Regions from separate parts of the Homo sapiens genome. Here region 1 is linked to region 2. Evidence: fine-mapped expression QTL. Tissue or cell type: whole blood. Region 2 holds a variant in brackets; the other region holds the start of a gene. All regions are shown on one strand. Distances are from middle to middle.

Region 1 (10,065 bases), 52 kb before region 2:
AATAAATAAACAAACAAGTAAAACCCAGTATAGGCATACCCTGGAAACCAGGGGTAGGTATCAACACTTAGATGACCCACTAACCTTGGGCAGTACCTTCCACTCTGACAGGTGGGAACAAGACATAGAGTTAAGTAAGATAAAACTCTTGGTAAAAACACCAAATCCCTTTGCAATTCTGTTTCAAACCTGTAGCTCAGCAGTCCCAACCTTTTTAGCCTAAGGGACCAGTTTCGTGGAAGACAATTTTTCCATGGATATGGTGGGGCTAGGGTGGGGATGGTTTCAGGATTGTTCAAGCTCATTACATTTATTGTGCACTTTATTTCTATTATTGTTACATTGTAATATAATAATTATACTATTCACTGTAATGTAGGATCAGTGGGAGCCCTGAGCTTGTTGTCTGGCAACTAGACAGTCCCATCTGGGGGTGATGGGAGATAGTGACAGATCATCAGGCATTAGATTTTCATAAGGAGTGCCCAACCTAAATCGCTTGCATGTGCAGTTCACAGTAGGGTTCGTGCTCCTATAATTTAATGCTGCTGATCTGACAGGAGGTAGAGCTCAGGCATAATGCAAGTGATGGGGAGTTGCTGTAAATACAGATGAAGCTTCACTCGCTCACCCTACGCTTGCCTCCTGCTGTGCAGCCCAGGTCCTAACAGGCCAGGGACCACTGGACCAGTATGGGTCTGTGACCCAGGAATTGGGGACCCCTGCTGTAGATGATCTTAACCAGAAGGTCTTGACAGGGTACGAGTGAACCTAACATTTGCCACCGTCCCTTTGGAACAAAAGGAGGAACAGGCCTTAGGTCCAGAGCCTAACAGAGGTTAACAACTTTTTAAATTTTAATTGTTTCAATATATCCACCTTGCTTATTGCAGTAATATCAAGTTTCCGTTCTGGAATTATCAAGTTTCCACTTCAGGCCAGGCATGGTGGCCTGCACTTTGGGAGGCCGAGGCGGAAGGATCACATGAGGCCAGGAGTTTGAGACCAGCCTGGACACGTGGCGAAACTCCATCTCTATAAAAAATACCAAAATTAGCCAGGTGTGGGAGCATGCACCTGTAGTTACAGCTATTTGGGAGGCTGAGGTGGGAGCCCAGGGAGGTCAAGGCTGCAGTGAGCTGAGATCATATCCCTGAACTCCAGCCTGGGTGACAAAGTAAGACCTTGTCTCAAAAAAAAAAAAAAAGGAAAAAGAAACAGGTCACTCTGGCCCATGCTTCTCTTTTCAGGCAGTGGCATGGGATATACACATTCCATCTGTGTTCCTGCAGATGCCCACCATGGACTGCACACTGCCTGACGGGAGAAGGACTGGCTCGCAGCCAGCCTGCAGAACCCAGTTCCCATGCCCTCCACTTCAATGCCCTTTTCTTTTTTTTTTGAGACAGAGTCTCGCTCTGTCGCCCAGGTTGGAATGCAGTGGCACGATCTTGGCTCACCACAACCTCTGCCTCCTGGGTTCAAGCGATTCTTGTGCCTCAGCCTCCAAGTAGCTGAGACTACAGGCCCACGCCACCACGCCCAGCTAATTTTCGTATTTTTAGTAGAGACAGGGTTTCACCATGTTGGCCAGGCTAGTCTCGAACTCCTGACCTCAGGTGACCCACCTGCCTCGGCCTCCCATCATGCTGGGATTACAGGCATGAGCCACCACGCCCAGCCAGATACACTTTTCTTCAATTCCCTCATGTGTCAAACAGAGATAAACACGAATCTACTTCATAGGGCAGTAGTGAAAAATTCAGCCAACTCCTATACCTTCCTCAGAACAGGATATGGACAGGCTCAATAAATTAGCTATTTGTTCCTTTCCTTTGTTGCTTAAGAGGCAATTCAGCAAGTTTATGCAGGAGTCCCATCTCACTCTTTTGCAGATAGGCCCCTCTCCTTTCTGCCCCAGAAGAAAAGGGAGCTCTTTAAGGGCTGCTATGGATTTCCAAGGTTAAAGGTGAAGGAAGAGTAATATAAAGAGTTTCTCAGTAGGGAGTAAGGAGTAGGGGACTCCACTCCCACCACCCCGGCCAGGCCAGGAAATTCCTTGTGGCCCTCAAGATCTTTACCTGAAAACAATTTTGTTGAATGTCACCCTGGCAATGTAAATTGACAGGTGATCTTCACAAGTGCAGGACAGAAAGTCATCACCTGAGACAAATGCATATCCAGTTGCTCTCTCTGCCCTAACGTTTATGTAAAAATGCAGATTTGGCCTGGCTCCGTGGCTCATGCCTGTAATCCCAGCATTTTGGGAGGCTGACACCGGTGGATCACCTGAGGTCAGGAATTCGAGACCAGCCTGACCAACATGGCGAAACCCCGTCTCTACTAAAAATATAAAAATTAACTGGGCGTGGTAGTGGGCGCCTGTAATCCTAGCTACTCAGGAGGCTGAGGCAAGAGAATTGCTTGAACCCGGGAGGTGGAGGTTGCAGTGAGCCAAGATTGCGCCATTGCACTCCAGCCTGGGCGACAGAGCGAGACTCTATCTCAAAAAATAAAACAAAAAACAAGAAACAAAACCTCAGATTCATGAGTCGGACTGAGGCATAAATGACTATTCCTCTACCTGCCCTGTACCCCATATAAATCGTGTATTCTGTGAAAGGCTGACCAAAGACTCAAAAGAAAGCAATCATTTGTCTCTACCTGTGACCATCTTACACATATTCATTTATATCTCACGTCTCCCTAAAATGTATAAAAGCAAGCTGTGCCCCAACCACCTTGGGTACATGTTGTCAGGACCTCCTGAGGCTGTGTCACAGACATGTCCTTAACCTTGGCAAAATAAGCTTTCTAACTGATTGACACCTGTCTCAAATACTTCGGATTCTCAGTCCTCTGTGGAGCTTCTGCCAGCCCTTCCAGGTGGCTGCCTTTCCTGGCCACTCAGAGAGCCCACACTCTCTGGCTTCACTCCCCAACCCACAACCCCTCCCTTCCACCCACCCCTGAGCTGACTGAGTTGGGAAGGTCTGGCTCTGTGACCACCCCTGACCTGAGTCCTCCAAGGTCCCCTAGATCTGGTACAGGGCTGAGTTGGAGGAGGAAAGTACAGATTTGGAACACATAAGATGGTGCCTGGAGATGGCCAAGTAAGAATTACCTGGAGAACAGCCTAGGCTAAAAGGGGGAAGCAGCATTACCAGTCCCTATTATCCATCAGGGCATGCTGAGGGTAAAACAGAAGATGAGTAAGGCCCCTAACTGGCAGCCAGTTTCCTTCTCTCAGCCAGGAATCTGCTCATCAAGAAAACTGTGCTGTCCAGGTGCGGTGGCTCAGGCCTATAATCCCAGCGCTTTGGGAGTCTGAGGCGGGTAGATCACTTGAGGTCAGGAGTTTGAGAACAGCCTGGCCAACATAGCAAAATCCTGTCTCTACTGAAAATACAAAAAATTAGCCAGGGCCGGGCACGGTGGCTCACGCCTGTAATCCCAGCACTTTGGGAGGCCGAAGCGGGCGGATCATGAGGTCAGGAGATCAAGACCATCCTGGCTAACACGGTGAAACCCCGTCTCTACTAAAAAAATACAAAAAAACTAGCCGGGCGTGGTGGCGGGTGCCTGTATTTCCAGCTACTCGGGAGGCTGAGGCAGGAGAATGGCCTGAACCCAGGAGACGGAGCTTGCAGTGAGCTGAGATTGCGCCACTGCACTCCAGCCTGGGTGACAGAACGAGACTCCGTCTCAAAAAAAAAAAAAAAGGCCAGGCAAGATAGTGCACACCGGTAATCCCAGCTACTCAGGAGGCTGAGGCAGGAGATCGCTTGAACTCCTTTTGACTCCGTTTCAAAAAAAAAAAAAATACAAAATTTAGCCAGGTGCGGTGTTGCGCACCTGTAGTCCCAGCTACTCGGGAGGCTGAGGCAGGGGAAGCCCTTGAACCCGGGAGGTGGAGGTTGCAGTGAGTCAAGATCATGCCACTACACTCTAGCCTGGGCGACAGAGAAAGACTCCGTCTCAAAAGAAAATTAAACGTGTGCCATGACATGCTGGGGACTCTAAAAGACTCCATCCACATGTCCCTCTACCAGCCACACCCACTCTGGTTCAAACACCAGCCTCCCCTAAGGGCGGCGTCACCTGCCACTCCCAGAGCCTAGACTCCACCTCACTCACGTGCTCAAAGCCCGGTAGTGGCTTCCCAACCCTCTCAGAACAAAACCCAGCCTCCTTATCCGCACCTTCTCTATCTAAGCCTTCCAAGTTCCTCTTCCCCGCCTTTCTCATCCTTCCCAGCACTCAAGAGACAGCCTTCAAAACCACTTCTAGATAAAGAGCAGCCCTGCTTTCCCGTCCCATCACTCTGTTATTATTTGCACACCATTACCTGTATCTAGAGCAACATCGTTCACTCATTTATTTGTACCCTGTAGCCTCCTTGTCCCCACTGCCTAGGACGGGGCCCGACACGCAGCAGGCACTCAGTGCACAGGTGCTGAATGAATAAATAAAATGAATGAAAATAAAGCGAATGCCAGGGAAGCCGAGGATTTTGTCCCCAGGCGGCTTCTGTAAAATTCTTTCATTTTTTTTTTCCCCCCAAACCACGTACCCGAGGGTCGCGCCAGCCCGACCCTGCGGCACCCCCACTCCCCACTCCGCGCGGGACAGGCCTCGGCAGCCGCAGCGTCTCACCCGGTCTTCGCGGCCACGTGGGGAAAGGTGGGGCGCGCGGTTGTCACCCAGGGAGCCGCCTCTAGCCCCTTCCGGCCGCCGTACGCGCGCAGGCGCTGTGGCGCCCCTAGGCTTGGCCTCCCAGAGACTCGCGGACGCTCACGATAACCAAGGACGACCGCGAACCAAGGTAAAGCCAACGAGGCCACCTCGTGCGCGACGGAGGCGTCTTTGCCGCCCCTTCCGGGACGCTCACGGTGGTCGCCGCCCCCAGCAGGGAAATGTTTTGCCTCCAGAGCGTCCGCCCAGAAGAAGCGGACAGCGCGCTTGCGCAAGAGAGCCGGGCCGCGGCGGCCCGCGCCTGCGCACCAGGACTCGGCGGCGGCTTGCGCCTGCGCGGCGCGGCGCTGCGGAGACCGTTGGTTCATTTGCATGTCCCCGCCTCGCGCGGCGGCGGCGGCGGGTGAGGAGCCTGAGGCGGCGGCGGGGGTGGCTCCGCGCGCGGTGGTCTCGGGGTGAGGCCCGGGCCCTGGCGTCGTCGGTGGGTGGCTCCCGGGGTGGGAAGCTCGGGCTCGGCCTTGGGGGCCCGCCCCGGGCTCCGTGATGGCGTCGCAGGCTCGGCCCTCTGGCTGCGGCGGCGGCCGCGTCCCCGCCGGGTTGGCCTGGGTGGCCGGCTGCGGCCTCCCGGGCCCGGCGCCCCCATTTCCTCGCCCGCAGAGGCCGGGAGACGGCGGGCCGCGTCCACAAAGGCTCATTGGTTCAGTCGTTCATTCATTCCTCCCGAACTCGGAGCGGCCCCCGCTCGGGAGGAGATAACGGCGCCCAGCGCTGCATCGGGCCCTTGCCCTCTTTAGAACCGGTTCAGCCCCCACACCAGCCCCTTTACTGGCTGCCCATTCCATAGGTGGGGAAACGGAAGCACAGAAAGCTTAGAATCGTGTGATTTGAACCTGGGTCACCTGACCCGGGAACCCTGCCCTTTGCCAGCAGAGAACAAGGGGGCGCCCCGGGAAAAGGGCTGAAGGATGGGACTGGGGGAGGCGGGTGGGGGAGGCGGTGATCGTGATGGGAAATGGACCCTACGGGTTGTCTCTTGAAGTTGGAGGTTTTGCGAAGCGGGATATCTTGATGGTTAAGGATGCAGCCCCTGGACCCCAAAATGTTGCTTAATCTTTTTACTCATTCTTCGGGGCTTTGGATGCACGAATACCCTTTTTGCCAGGTTCAAATCTGGGCTGTCTGGTCTTGAATGGGTCGTTGAGTCTGTCTCCCTTTGCCTCCTCACCCTAATGTCATTCATAACAGGACCCGCCTCTTCAGTGGGTGGTTGGGAGATCGCGCAAGGACCCAGCGCAGAATGAACTGTCACTAGTTCATTGTCATTGGTTGGGGGTCCCGCCACTCACTGTCAAGAGGCTTCTTTTAGAAGGGAAGGAAGTTCTCAGAGCCTCTGTGCCCTGCTGAGTCTGTGAATGGGAAAAGAGTGATCCTGGGCCAGGCGCAGTGGCTCACGGCCTGGAATCCCAGCACTTTGGGAGGCCGAAGCGGGCGAATCACTTGAGGTCAGGAATTCAAGACCAGCCTGGCCAACATGGTGAAACTCCATCTCTACCTAAAATATAAAAATTAGTCGGATGCGGTGGCGGACTCCTGTAATCCCAGCTACTCAGGAGGCTGAGGCAGGAGAATTGCTTGAGTCCAGGAGGCGGAGGTTGCAGTTAGCCGAGATCATGCCACTGCACTCCAGCCTGGGCAACAGGGAGAGTCTCAAAAAAAGGAAGAAAAAAAAAAAAAAGATTGATCTCTTCTTTCCTAACCACGATTTGCGAGGGTTGTGGTCCCACCCTTCCTACTCTGTTATGCTCAGTTATGTGTGTTGGTTGACACCTTCCTCCAGCAGATAGAACTGCTTTCACAGAGCTGCTTTTAATGGATTCCAAGGAGATGGGCCCAGAGAAGGTTTGTCTTGCTCCTTTTCAGCCAGCACACACCTGTGAACTTCGTGAGGGCAGAGACCCCCTTAAAAGAGTCCAGACAAGGTGGGCAGATTGCTTGAGGTCAGGAGTTCGAGACCAGCCTGGCCAACCTAGCAAAACCCTGTCTCTACTTAAAAAAAAAAAAAAAAAAGATAAATAAAAAGGGTCCAGCTTGCCTCTGAAGTACCATGCGAGGATTATGGATTACTGCCTCCTTACTTCGAGGATTAAGTGAAATAGAGCAGGTTCTGTGAGCACGCATTTTTTTTTTCTTTGAGACAGTCTCGCTCTGTCCCCCAGTCTGGAGGGCAGTGGCATGATCTCGGCTCACTGCAACCTCTGTCTCCCTGGTTCAAGCAATTCCCATGCCTCAGCCTCCTGAGTATTTGGGATTACAGGCACGTGCCACCATGCCTGGTGAAATTTTTTTTTTTTTTTTTTTGAGACGGAGTCTCACTCTGTTACCCATGCTGGAGTGCAGTGGCATGATCTCGGCCCACTGCAACCTCCGCCTCCTGGGTTCAAGCAATTCTCTTGCCACAGCCTCCCAAGTAGCTGGGATTAAAGGCAGGCACCACCATGCCCGGCTAATTTTTGTATTTTTAGTAGAGACAGGGTTTTGCCATGTTGGCCAGGCTGGTCTCCAACTCCTGACTTTAAATGATCCGCTCACCTCAGCCTCCCAAAGTCCTGGGATTACAGGTGTGAGCCACCACACCCAGCCTGAATTTTTTGTATTTTAGTTTCATCATGTTGCCTAGGCTGGTCTCGAACTCCTGAGCTCAGGTGATCCGCCCACCTCGACCTCCCAAAGTGCCAGGATTACAGGTATGAGCCACCGCGCCCAGCTCCAAGTTGTTGCTCTTAGTGTATTTTTTTCTCTCTCACCATAGGGCAAAATAACATGGCAGCCAGACGAATTACACAGGAGACTTTTGATGCTGTATTACAAGAAAAAGCCAAACGATATCACATGGATGCCAGTGGTGAGGCTGTAAGCGAAACTCTTCAGTTTAAAGCTCAAGGTAAAATAAAGTGTTGTTGTTGTAGTTGTTGTTTTGGTAGGGGTGTATCTTAGGGCCAAGGCAGGAAGATTACAATACCTTGGGCAAATAATACCAGTCCTCTGATCCTTAGTTTCCTTATTTAGGAGGAGGTAAAGGTTTTTATTTTGGTTTGGTTTCTTTTTTGTGATAGGGTCTTACTCTCTCCCCCAGGCTGAAGTGCAGTGGCGCAGTTTTAGCTCACTGCACCCTTGAACTCCTAGGCTCAAGCCATCCTTCCATCTCTGCCTCCCAGAGTGCTGGGATTATAGGCATGAGCCACTGCACTTGGTCAGGGGATAATGTTTTGATCTGTCAGTCATCATTATGTAGTTATCTGGAGCTTCTCACTGGATATCCTCCCCGACCCACCTCAAGACAGTTTTGTTTATTGTTTGTTTGTTTGTTTGTTTGTTTTGAGACGGAGTTTCACTCTTGTCTCCCAGGCTGGAGGGCAATGGAGGGATCTTGGCTCACTGCAACCTCCGCCTCTTGGCTCACTGCAACCTCCGCCTCCTGGGTTCAAGCGATTCTCCTGCCTCAGCCTCCTGAGTAGCTGGGATTACGGGCATGCACCACCACGCCCAGCTAATTTTTCTATTTGTAGTAGAGATGAGGTTTTACCATGTTGGCCAGGCTGGTCTCGAACTCCCGACCTCAGGTGATCCACTTGCCTTGGCCTCCCAAGATGCTGGGATTACAGGCATGAGCCACCGAGCCCAGCCCAGTTTTGTTTTTTGGTGTTTTTTATGTTTTTGTTTTTTTTGTTTTTTGTTTTTTTTAATAGATATGGAGTCTTGCTATGTTTTCAGGCTGGTCTGCAACTCCTGGGCTCAAGTGATCCTCCCACCTCTGCCTTCAGCATGTTGCGATTACAGGCGTGAGCCACTGCTCCCAGCCCCAAGACAGGTTCTTGGATCCATTTCCTGGCTCCATCCCTGTCACCGCTGCCCAGGTTTAAGCTCTACTAGTTCTTTTTTTTTTTTATTTGAGACAGAGTCTTGTACTGTCGCCCAGGCTGGAGTGCAGTGACGTGATTTTGGCTCACTGCGGCCTGTGCCTCCTGGATTCAAGCGATTCTCCTGCCTCAGCCTCCCGAGTAGCTGAGATTACAGGTGCCTGCCACCATGCCCGGCTAATTTTTTTGTATTTATTTTAGTAAAGATGGGGTTTCACTATGTTGGTCAGGCTGGTTTTGAACTCCTGACCTTGTGATCTGCCCGCCTCGGCCTCCCAGAGTGCTGGGAGGATCACAAGGTCAGGAGATCGAGACCATCCTGTGAATGGTGAAACCCCGTCTTTACTAAAAATCAAAAAAAAAAAAAAATTAGCCAGGTGTGGTTGTGGGTGCCTGTGGTCCCAGCTACTTGGGAGGCTGAGGCGGGATAATGCCGTGAACCCGGGAGGTGGAGCCTGCAGTGAGCCAAGATTGCGCTACTGCACTCCAGCCTGGGCGACAGAGCGAGACTCCATCTCAAAAAAAAAAAAAGAAAAAAAATGGCCGGGCGCAGTGGCTCAAGCCTGTAATCCTAGCACTTTGGGAGGCCGAGGCGGGCGGATCACAAGGTCAGGAGATCGAGACCATCCTGGCTAACACGGTGAAACCCTGTCTCTACTAAAAATATTAGCCGGGCGTGGTGGCGGGCGCCTGTAGTCCCAGCTACTCAGGAGGCTGAGGCAGGAGAATGGCGTGAACCCAGGAGGCGGAGGTTGCAGCGAGCCAAGGTTGTGCCACTGCACTCCAGCCTGGGTGACAGAGCAAGACTCCGTCTCAAAAAAAAAAAAATTTATCTGGGCATGGTGGCATGCGCCTATGGCCCTGGCTACTTGGGAGGCTGAGGCAGGAAGTTCGCTTGTGCCCAGGAAGTCGAGGCTGCAGTAAGCTGTGTTTGTGCCATTATACTCCAGCCTGGGCCAAAGAGTGAGACCCTGTCTCAAAAAAAGACGGCCAGGTGCAGTGGCTTACACATGTAATCTCAGCACTTTGGGAGGCCAAGGTGGGCAGATCACCTGAGGTCAGGAGTTTGAGACCAGTCTGGCCAACATGGTGAAACCCCGTGTCTACTAAAAATACAAAAATGTGGCAGGCCCCTATAATCCCAGCTACCCAGGAGGCTGAGACAGAAGAATAGCTTGAACCCAGGAGGTGGAGGTTGCAGTGAGCCGAGATCGCACCACTGCGCTCCAGCGTGGGTGACAGAACGAGACTCCGTCTCAAAAAAAAAAGACAGATTAGGGGGCCGTGGGTGGGAGAGGACTAGAAACCTAGCAGTATGCTAGGTGATTCTGGAACATTTCTGTGTTGCAAAGCAGTCTATCGTTTAGCCTTTCTCTGTTTCTCTGCTCCACTCTGAACTTTTCATCTCCTCATAAAGGGTATGAGAAAATTCTCTTGAGTAGAATCCAGCCAT
Region 2 (10,065 bases):
TCTGTGCTGTGTAACCTGGGGCGGGTGATCCACATCTCTGAGTGTCAGCTTCCTCATTTGCAAATGGGGAGAACAGTAGCATCTACAGAAGGGTTCTTAGGAGCAGCACCCGCATGCTGTGAACTCAGACATCGCTGATCTGTTTCCATTGTTCTGTGTCAGTGGACCCAGTCCTTGAGGCATCCCATTGGCTGACTCCTCCTCCTTAAAACAAAGGCCAGGCGTGGTGGCTCACGCCTGTAATCCCAGCACTTTGGGAGGCCGAGGCAGGCAGATCACCTGAGGTCAGGAGTTCGAGACCAGCCTGGCCAACATGGTGAAACCTCGTCTCTACTAAAAATGCAAAAATTAGCTGGGTGTGGTGGTGCATGCCTGTAATCCCAGCTATTCCGGAGGCCGAAGCAGGAGAATCGCGTGAATCCAGGAGGCGGGGGTTGCAGTGAGCCGAGATCGCACCACTGTACTCCAGCCTGGGCTACAAAAGCAAAACTCTATCTATAAATAAATAAATGAAGTTTCCTGAGTCCTTACCTAGACCCCATGACATGATGAAAGGGCCTTGACTCCAGTGTCCTGGTCACAACGAGTGACTTTGGAAAATTCACTTCACTCCCTGAGGCCCCAGCATGCTCATCTTAAAATAAAGATGTTCCAAGCTGGGCGTGGTGGCTCACACCTGCAATCCCAGCACTTTAGGAGGGAGAGGAAAGAGCACTGCTTGAGGCCAGGAATTCAAGGCCAGCCTGGGCAACGTAACAAGACCCCATCTCTATTAAAAAAAAAAGAAACCCTAGCCGGGCATGGTGGCACATGCCTGTAGTCCCACCTACTTGGGAGGCTGAGGAGGAAGGATCACTTGAGCCCGGGAGGTCAAGGCTGCAGTGAGCTGTGATTGTACCACTGCACTCCAGCCTGGGTGACAGAGTATGACCTTGTCTCAAAAAAAATAAATCCATTTGCAAAGTGTAGCATCATTTTTGTAAAAATCTTGTAAAATGTAGACAAGCCCCCCGTATATGGCAATGTTGGGCTGTGTTTCAGCACAAAGATGGGTCTACTCCAAACCGGCCACGTGGTAGGGAAGCGTGTGGGGTCCGGGCAGGGGTGCCACCCCCCACCAACACCCAGCCATGTGCCTCCTTACAACCAGTTTGAAAGGAAAATCCACTGAAGAATGTTTAGAGGAAGTAAAAACAGCAAAGCACTTGCTGGCAGCAATTGTCGGCCTTTGTTTCGGAGGCAGCTGTGGTCTTAGGAGAAAAAAGGATCAGATTTGAACCAAGACAGTTTCTTCCTGTGTCAAATGGGGAAATAAGCCTGGCTTCCTCCCAGGGCCATTGTTCAAAGGCTGCTGTGAAAAACCCTCTGACATCTCCTTGGCAGAGGCTCTGATCGGCTTTTTACATCTTGTCTGTTCACTCATTCATTCATTCATTCATTCACCACACATTTTTATTTGTTGGTTTTCGTTTTGAGACAGGGTCTTACTCTGTCGCCCAGGCTGGAGTGTAGTGGTGCCATCTCGGCTTACTGCAACCTCCACCTCCAAGATTCACGCAATCCTCCCACCTCAGCCTCCTGAGTAGCCGGGACTATGGGCACGCGCCACCATGCCCAGCTAATTTTTGTATTTTTTAGTAGAGAGGGGCTTTTGTCATGGTGCGGTGGCTCATGCTTGTAATCCCAGCACTTTGGGAGGCCAAGGCAGACGGATCGCTTGAGGTCAGGAGTTTGAGACCAGCCTGGGCAAGACGGCAAAATTCCGTTTGTACTAAAAATACAAAAATTAGCCAGGCATGGTGGTACACACACATAGTTCCAGCTACTCGGGAGGCTGAGGCGAGAAGATCACTTGAACCCGGAAAGTGGAGGTTGCAGCGAGCCGGGATGGCGTCACTGCACTCCAGCCTGAGTGACAGAGTAAGACTCTGTCTCAAAAACAAACAAAAAATTTATCATCATTATCATTATTATTTTTAAGACGGCATCTCACTCTGTAGCCCAGGCTGGAGTACAGTGGCATGATCATAGCTCTCTGCAGCCTTGACCTCCTGGGCTGAAATGATCCTCCAGCCTTAGCCTCCTGAGTAGCTGGGACTACAGGCATGTATCACCATGCCTGGCCTGATTTACACCTTTTAAAAGAGCAGTCTGGAAGGGCAGGGCAGGAATGAAAGCAATTCTGAACTGTTCCATCTATACCCCTCGGTTCCAGCCCCATTTAATGGCAGGCACCTGTGCAGGGTATCAGGGCTACCCTGGGCTGCTGGAGCACCCTTTGCCTGAATGCCCACTGGAACCAGAAGTGCCTGGAATTGACATTCCCCAGGGTAACCCTGACAGCTGACGAGGGTGGGGTGTGAATAACCTAGCCAAAAGACACAGAGACATAGACCCCGTGTGCTGGCCAGCTATTTGGTAAAACAACCATTCTCTGGCAGTTGTCTGAAATGTGGCCTTAGACAACGTTGTAGGCTCCGTCTCAGCCCCGAACCCCATGGAGGTCACTTGCAAGGAACCCAGAGCAAACCTGTCCTTTCTGGCTTGGACGTCCCACCTGCCTACTCTAGAGCCTTTGACAGTTTCCCTGTTTCAGTCCAGAGATGTTCACCCTCTCCTTTCTGGCTCTCCACGTTCTTGGCAGGTTGTTGCAAGAGGCAGAGATGTCTGGGAGCAACTAAGTCCCTCAGAACGCAGAAAACCTTCTTCTTCTTCTTCTTCTTTTTTTTTTTTTTTTTTTTTTTTTTTTTTTTTTGAGACAGAGTCTCACTCTGTTGCCCAGGCTGGTGGAGTACAGCAGCTCAATCTGGGCTCACTGCAACCCCCTGTAACCCCCACCTCCCAGTTTCAAGCAATTATTTTGCCTCAGCCTCCCAAGTAGCTAGGACTACAGGCAGGCACCACCATACCTGGCTAATTTTTGTATTTTTAGTAGAGATGGGGTTTCACCATGTTGCTCAGGCTGGTCTTGAACTCCTGACCTCAGATGATCCATCCGCCTCTGCCTCCCAAAGTGTTGGGATTACAGGCATGAACCACTGCACCTGGCCAGAAAACCTTCTTTTATCCAAGTCCAAGTAAGCAGGAGTCCAGGGTGGGCACCCGGGGGGCATCCCTAGATAGCACTGGATATCTTATAGCGCCAGGCATGGCAAAGAACGCTTGGCACCTGTGCTCCTTTCACCTTAGGCAACCACAGCTCCCTTTACAGACGAGGAAACTGAGGCCCAGAGACGTTGGTTAACAACTCTCTGGGGCAGGCAGGTGGGACGTCCAAGCCATTTCCAGAAAGTTCAGTTCTTAGGGCTGGTCTTTAGCTGTTTTTTTTTTTTGTTTTTTTTTTTTTGAGACAGAGTCTCATTCTGTCACCCAGGCTGGAGTGCGGTGGCACTGCAGCCTCAACCTCCCTGAGCTCAGGTGATCCTCCCATTTCAGCCTCCCAAGTAGCTGGGACTACAGGCATGCACCACCATGCCTGGCTAATTTTTTTTTTTTTTTTCTTTTTGTAGAGACAGGGTCCACTATGTTGCCCAGGCTGGTCACAAACTGTTGGGCTTGAGTGATCCGCTTATTTCAGCCTCCTAAAGTGCTAAGATTACAGGCAGGAGCCACTACAGCCTGCCTGGTCTTTGACTTTCTGTTTATCCTCATAGACAGCAATGAGGGCAGCCTCAATTTTCCAATTTCTCTGCTCTCCTAATGAATGAAGTAACTGACATGTTTATAGTGCTGTCTCTGCAGCACTAAGGGCTGAATACATGGGAACTCTTTGGGCTGCATAAAGCCAAAAAGGGAATTAATTGGTGGATGGAATTGGAAAGGACACCTTCAGGATCAGCTGGATCAAGGCACTCAACCAAAACCACCAGCCTCTCTCTCTATTTCTTGGCTTTGCTGTCCTTTGTTTACAGGCAGGCAAGATGGTGGCCAGCAACTCGGAGCCTAGCCTTACCCATTTAAGCAACATCACAAGAGCTCTGTTGTCTGATAGGGGTGGCACAGACACCAAGATTGTCTATTATTGCCCCAGCCCGGGGCATATGCCTGTCTCTGAACCAATCACAGTGGCCAGAGGGCTACAATACACTGATAGCTAGGGCTTCATTGGCTAAGAAGGGGGAAAGACCCCAAGCACAACAAGATGCTGTTCACAGAAGGACTAGGAAGAGCCCCTGCAAGTGGGCAGAATCAGAATCGGAACCCAGCTCTTCACTCCTTAGCTATATTGGTCTCAGCTGCTTTCTTTTCTTTTGAGACAGAGTTTTGCTCTTGTTGCCCAGGCTGGAGTGCCATGGCGTGATCTCGGCTCACCACAACCTCCGCATCCCGGGTTCAAGCGATTCTCCTGCCTCAGCCTCCTGAGTAGCTGGGATTACAGACATGCGCCACCATGCCCAGCTAATTTTGTGTTTTTAGTAGAGATGGGGTTTCTCCATGTTGATCAGTCTGGTCTTGAACTCCCGACCTCAGGTGATCCGCCCACCTCAGCCTCTCAAAGTGCTGGGATTGAGATTACAGGCATGAGCCACCACGCCTGGCCAGCTGCTTTCTGATGGACACTTTCACCCCTTCAAACACCTTCCACTTCAAACTCACCATCAATCAGGTGCAGTGGCTCACACCTGTAATCCCAGCATTTTGGGAGGCCAAAGTGGGAGGATCACTTCAGCCCAGGAGTTGGAGAACAGCCTGGGCAACATAGGGAGACCCAGTCTCTATAAAAAATTTAAAAATCTAGCCAGGTGTGGTAGCCCATTCCTTGTAGTTCCAGCTACTTGAGAAGCTGAGGTGAGAGGATCACTAAAGCCCAGGAGCTCAAAGCTGCAGCGAGCCATGATTGTGCCACTGCACTTCAGCCTGGACAACATAGGAAGACCCTGTCTTTAAAAAAATTCAGGCCTGGCTGGGTGCGGGTGGCTCATGCCTGTAATCCCAGCACTTTGGGAGGCCGAGGCAGGTGGATCATTTGAGGTCAGGAGTTTAAGACCAGCCTGGCCAACATGGTGAAACACTGTCTTTACCCAAAAATTAACTGGGCATGCTGGCACACACCTGTAATCCCAGCTACTCAGGAGGCTGAAGCA[G/A]GAGAATCACTTGAACCCTGGAGGCAGAGGTTGCAGTGAGCCGACATCACGCCCCTGCGCTCTAGCCTGGGCAAAAAGAGCAAGTCTCCATAATAATAATAATCATCATCATCATCAGGCCCCCTGGGACCCTCCTCACTGAATCCCAGTCTCTGCTCTCTCGCCTTCTCTGAGCCCCAATTTCCTCATCTGTAAAATGGGTCATCAGGAGCGTCTTGTACTCAGTAAACAGCCAAAGGTCACATTGGATTTACAGAAAGTGAGATCCAGATTCAGAGAGCAAGGAGGCTGGGCGTGGTGGGTCACGCCCGTAATCCTAGCACTTTGAGAGGCCGAGGCGGGCGGATTGCTTGAGGTCAGGAGTTCGAGACCAGCCTGGCCAACGTGGCGAAACCCTATCTCTAAAATACAAAAATTATCCAGGAGTGGTGGCACAAGCCTGTAATCCCAGCTACTCAGGAGGCTGAGGCAGGAGAATCACTTGAACCCAGGAGGTGGAGGTTGCAGTGAGCTGAGATCATGCCACTGCACTCCAGTCTGAGCAACAGACCTAGACTCCATCTCAAAAAAAGAAAAGAAAAACATAGAAGATAAGTCCTTGTGGGGGGTCCTCAGTCAGGGCTGGCGTTGAACTTTCTGTTTATCCTCATAGATCATGAGGAGTTTGGGCAGCCCAAATTTTCCCATTTCTCCACTCTCCTAATGAATGAAGAGGCCAACATGCTGTTTTTAATCCCATCTTTGCAGCAGACATGAATAGCTTCAGGAAGGAACTGGCCGGCATGAGCCAGGCCTGGTGCAGGCTGGCCTGTGAAGTGTCCACATATAAACATTCCTGCAGTTCACGCCAACAAAGGAGAATATGCTCATTTTCATTTTCATTTTGAAAATTAGATTTATTTTGTTGTGTTGGTTAGATTCCATAAAGTTCAGTTCATGGTCAGCCCCCACCTTCAACTTGGCAAACTCATATTCATCCCCCAAAACCCAACACCCACACCCCCTCCTCCATTCTTCAAAGGTTCATAAAATGCTACATCTCTCCCCTCTCTGTGCTATAAGAGAAACATCCAGGCTGGGCACGGTGGCTCACGCCTGTAATACCAGCACTTTGGGAGGCCAAGGTGGGCGGATCACGAGGTCAGGAGTTTGAGACCAGCCTGACCAACATGGTGAAACCCTGTCTCTACTAAAAATACAGAAATGGCCAGGCGCGGTGTCTCACTTCTGTAATCCCAGCACTTTGGGAGGCCGAGGTGGGCAGATCACGAGGTCAGGAGATCAAGACCATCCTGGCTAACATGGTGAAACCCCATCTCTACTAAAAATACAAAAAATTAGCCGGGCATGGTGGCAGGTGCCTGTAGTCCCAGCTACGCAGGAGGTTGAGGCAGGAGAATGGCATGAACCTGGGAGGCAGAGCTTGCAGTGAGCCAAGATCACACCACTGCACTCCGGCCTGGGCGATACAGTGAGACTCCGTCTCAAAAAAAAAAAAAAAAAAAAATTTGCCAGGCGTGGTGGCGCGCGCCTGTCATCCCAGCTACTCAGGATGCTGAGGCAGGAGAATCACTTGAACTTGAGAGGTGGAGGTTGCGGGGAGCCGAGGTCATGCCACTGCACTCCAGCCTGGGTGACAGAGCAAGACTCCATCTCAAAAAAAACAGAAAAAAAAAAAAAGAAAAAGAAAAAAAAGAAGCATTCCCCTGGCACTATGATCGTCTGTTTATAGCTGTTTCTCCCACTCTGGGCTCTGTTCTAGCACCCAGCTCAGTGCCTGGCACACAGTGGATACTCAATAAATGCGGTTTAGGTGGGATCTCACTCTATCGCTCAGGCTGGAATGCATTGGTGCAATGATAGTTCATTGCAGCCTCGACCTCCTGGGCTCAAACGATCCCACCTCAGCCTCCTGAATAGCTAGGACCGCAGGTGTATCCAGCACGCCTGGCTAATTTTATTTATATTTTTGCAGAGACGGGGTCTTGTTATGTTGCTCAGGCTCTTTTTTTTTTGAGACGAAGGCCCATTCTGTCGCTTGAGATGCCATCTTAAATTATAATAATGATAATAAATTGTTTGTTTGTTTGTTTTTGAGACAGGGTCTTACTCTTTTGCCCAGGCTGGAGTGCAGTGGTGCCATCTCGGCTCACTGCAACCTCCACCTCCCGGGTTCAAGTGATCCTCCTGCCTCAGCCTCCCGAGTAGCTGGGACTATGCGCGCATGCCACCAAGCCCAGATAATTTTTGCATTTTTAGCAGAGATGGGGTTTCGCCATGTTGCCTAGGCTGGTCTTGAACTCCTGACTTCAAGTGATCTGTCCCCTTCAGCCTCCCAAAGTGCAGGGATTACAGGCGTGAGCCACCACTCCCAGCCACCCAGGCTCATTGTTATCACCTCAAAAAGAAACCTGTCTCCATCAGCAGTCACTCCCCATTCCCCTCCACCAGTCCCTGGCAACCACCAATCTGCTTCCTGTCTATGGATTTGCCTGTTCTGGGCATTTCAGATCAATGGAATCTCACACTGTGTGGCCTTTTGTGTCTGGCTTCTCTCACTCAGCATCGTGTTTTGGGGGTTCATTCACGCTGTAGCATGGATCAGTGCTTCCTTCTTTTCCATGGCTGTATCATATCCCCCTGTGTGGATGGAACACACTCTGTTATCCATGCACCAGCTGATGGGCATGGGGAGGTTTCCACTTTCTGCCAACCATGACTAGAGCTGCTGTGGACACGCGTGGACAGGTGTTTGTGTGGACGTGGGTTTCCCCATCTCTGGAGCACTTCCCTGGCAGTGTCAGTCAATGTCTAATGGTTATTGTGAAACTTGTTAAACTTTAGCCACATAGTCAGCTGGGTTGCACAGATGACAGATCGAATCCCCCAGGCTTTGAAATCTGCCCCCACCCCCAACTCCCACATCTCCGAAGGGGGCCTTTTTTTTTTTTTTTTTTGAGACAAAGTCTTGCTCTGTCACCCAGACTGAAGTGCAGTGGTGCGATCTCGGCTCACTGCAACTGCAGCCTCAAGTGACTCTTCTGCCTCAGCCTTCCGAGTAACTGGGACTACAAGGCACATGCCACCAAGCCCGGCTAATTTTTGTATTTTTAGTAGAGAACGAGGTTTCACCATGTTGGCCAGGCTGGTCTCAAATTCCCAACCTCAAGTGATCCGCCCACTTCAGCCTCCCAAAGTGCTGGGATTACAGGTGTGAGCCACTGCACCCAACCAGAAGGGGGCCATTTTTGGTCTTCAAATCCAATGTGTCCACCTCTCAGGCCTTTTGCGGCTGAGGACCTCCCTGTCCGCAGGCCAGCCAAAGCAGATCTGTGACCCGGCTCGGGCTGTGGTGTTCTATGGATGGCTGATCAAGCAGCATCCTGCCCTAGGTTTATTTTGGTTGAGGGTAGCAGGCTTGGTCAGCACCTCAGGCCTGGCCCTGCCCAGGACCGTGAAACCCAAGGCCTCTAATGTGTGTCCTTGGTCTGCAGGTGTCTTGGGTGGCGCCCGAGGCTAGGAAGCTGGCCTGGGTTCAGCGGACAAAGGCCAAGGCAATCAGCTGAGGTCCTGCCACCGGAAGCTGTCACTATCTCAGAAATTCCCTGAGTGGCCGGGCGCGGTAACTCACGCCTGTAATCCCAGCACTTTGGGAGGCTGAGGCAGGCAGATCACTTGAGACCAGGAGTTCAAGACCAGCTTCGCCAATATGGTAAAACCCTGTCTCCACTAAAAATACGAAAATTAGCCAGGCATGGTGGCGGGCACCTGTAATCCCAGCTACTCCAGAGGCTGAGGCAGGAGAATCGCTTGAGCCCAGGAGACAGAGCTTGCAGTGAGCCAAGACCATACACTGCACTCCAGCTTGGGCGACAGAGCGAAACTCCATCTCAAAAAAAGAAAAAAAAGAAATTCCCTGAGTATGTATTGGAAAGTAACCCCGCCTCCTTCCCATCACCGGGCCTCTGGGTGCCTGTATCAGTAATGGCTCACAAGAGAAACAGAACCAACAGGAAATATACATATTACATATATAGAAAGAGATTTTCTCTAAAAAAAAAAAAAATTTTTTAAGATTTATTTTGTCTGGGCGTGGTGGTTTACGCCTGGAATCCTAGCACTTTGGGAGGCTGACATGGAAAGATTGCTTGAGCCCAGGAGTTTAAGATCCCATGTTTACAAAAAAGTTTTTAAAAAGTTTGGGCATGGTGGTGTGTGCCTGTGATCCCAGCCACTCCAGAGGCTGAGGTGGGTGGATCGTTTGAGCCCAGGAGGTCGAGGCTGCAGTGAGCCATGATCCCACCACCGCACTTCAGCCTGGGTGGCAGAGATCCTATCTCTCTCAAAAAAAAAAAAGATGTATTTTAAGGAATTGGGTCATGCAATCGTGGGGGCTGATAAACCCAAAATTCATAGGGCACTCTAGCAGGTTGGAAACAGGGAGGCTTTATTTGTTGCAAGCTTACGAATTCCTTTTTCCCTCTAGAAGCTGTTTTTGCTCTCTGAAGGACTTCAACTGATTAGATAAGAAGCATCGGCTGGGTGCAGTGGCTCACGCCTGTAACCCCAACACTTTGGGAGGCCGAGGCAGGAGGATCACCTGAGGTCAGGAGTTTCAGACCAGCCTGACCAACGTGGAGAAACCCCGTCTCTACTAAAAATGCAAAAATTATCCAGGCATGGTGGTGCATGCCTGTAATCCCAGCTACTCAGGAGGCTGAGGCAGGAGAATGTCTTGAACCCGGGAGGTGGAGGTTGCAGTTAGCCGAGATCACGCCATTGCACTCCAGCCTGGGCAAAAAGAGCGAAACTTGGTTTCAAAAAAAAAAAAAAGAAACATCAAGGTCATGGAGGATAAATTCCTTTACTTCAGGTCAGTTGATTGGAGGTGTTAACCACATCTGCAAGGCCGGGTGCAGTGGCTCAGCCTGTAATCCCAGCACTTTGGGAGGCTGAGGTGGGAGGATTACTTGAGTCCAGG

The links. PIP is the estimated chance that this variant, and not a neighbour inherited with it, causes the effect.
Region 1: SUGP2 starts here. The variant in region 2 is fine-mapped to the expression of SUGP2 in whole blood (TOPMed, PIP 0.96).

What each region holds. Positions count from the first base shown.
Region 1 is chr19:19,028,522-19,038,586 of GRCh38, reverse strand. SUGP2 (SURP and G-patch domain containing 2) reads left to right here and starts at 5,070. Exons shown (of 11, transcript NM_001017392.5): 1 at 5,070-5,150; 2 at 7,505-7,636. The coding sequence starts at 7,516. ARMC6 (armadillo repeat containing 6) reads right to left here and starts at 4,984. Exons shown (of 9, transcript NM_001199196.2): 1 at 4,657-4,984; 2 at 4,349-4,456. The coding sequence starts at 4,377. RefSeq lists silencers at 4,981-5,410, 5,831-5,910 and an enhancer at 5,837-6,338.
Region 2 is chr19:18,976,645-18,986,709 of GRCh38, reverse strand. No RefSeq gene overlaps it. Among named protein-coding and RNA genes, the nearest start is that of HOMER3, 40 kb to the right of the region's middle. RefSeq lists an enhancer at 7,976-8,620. The variant G/A (reference allele first, on the strand shown) is at 5,085.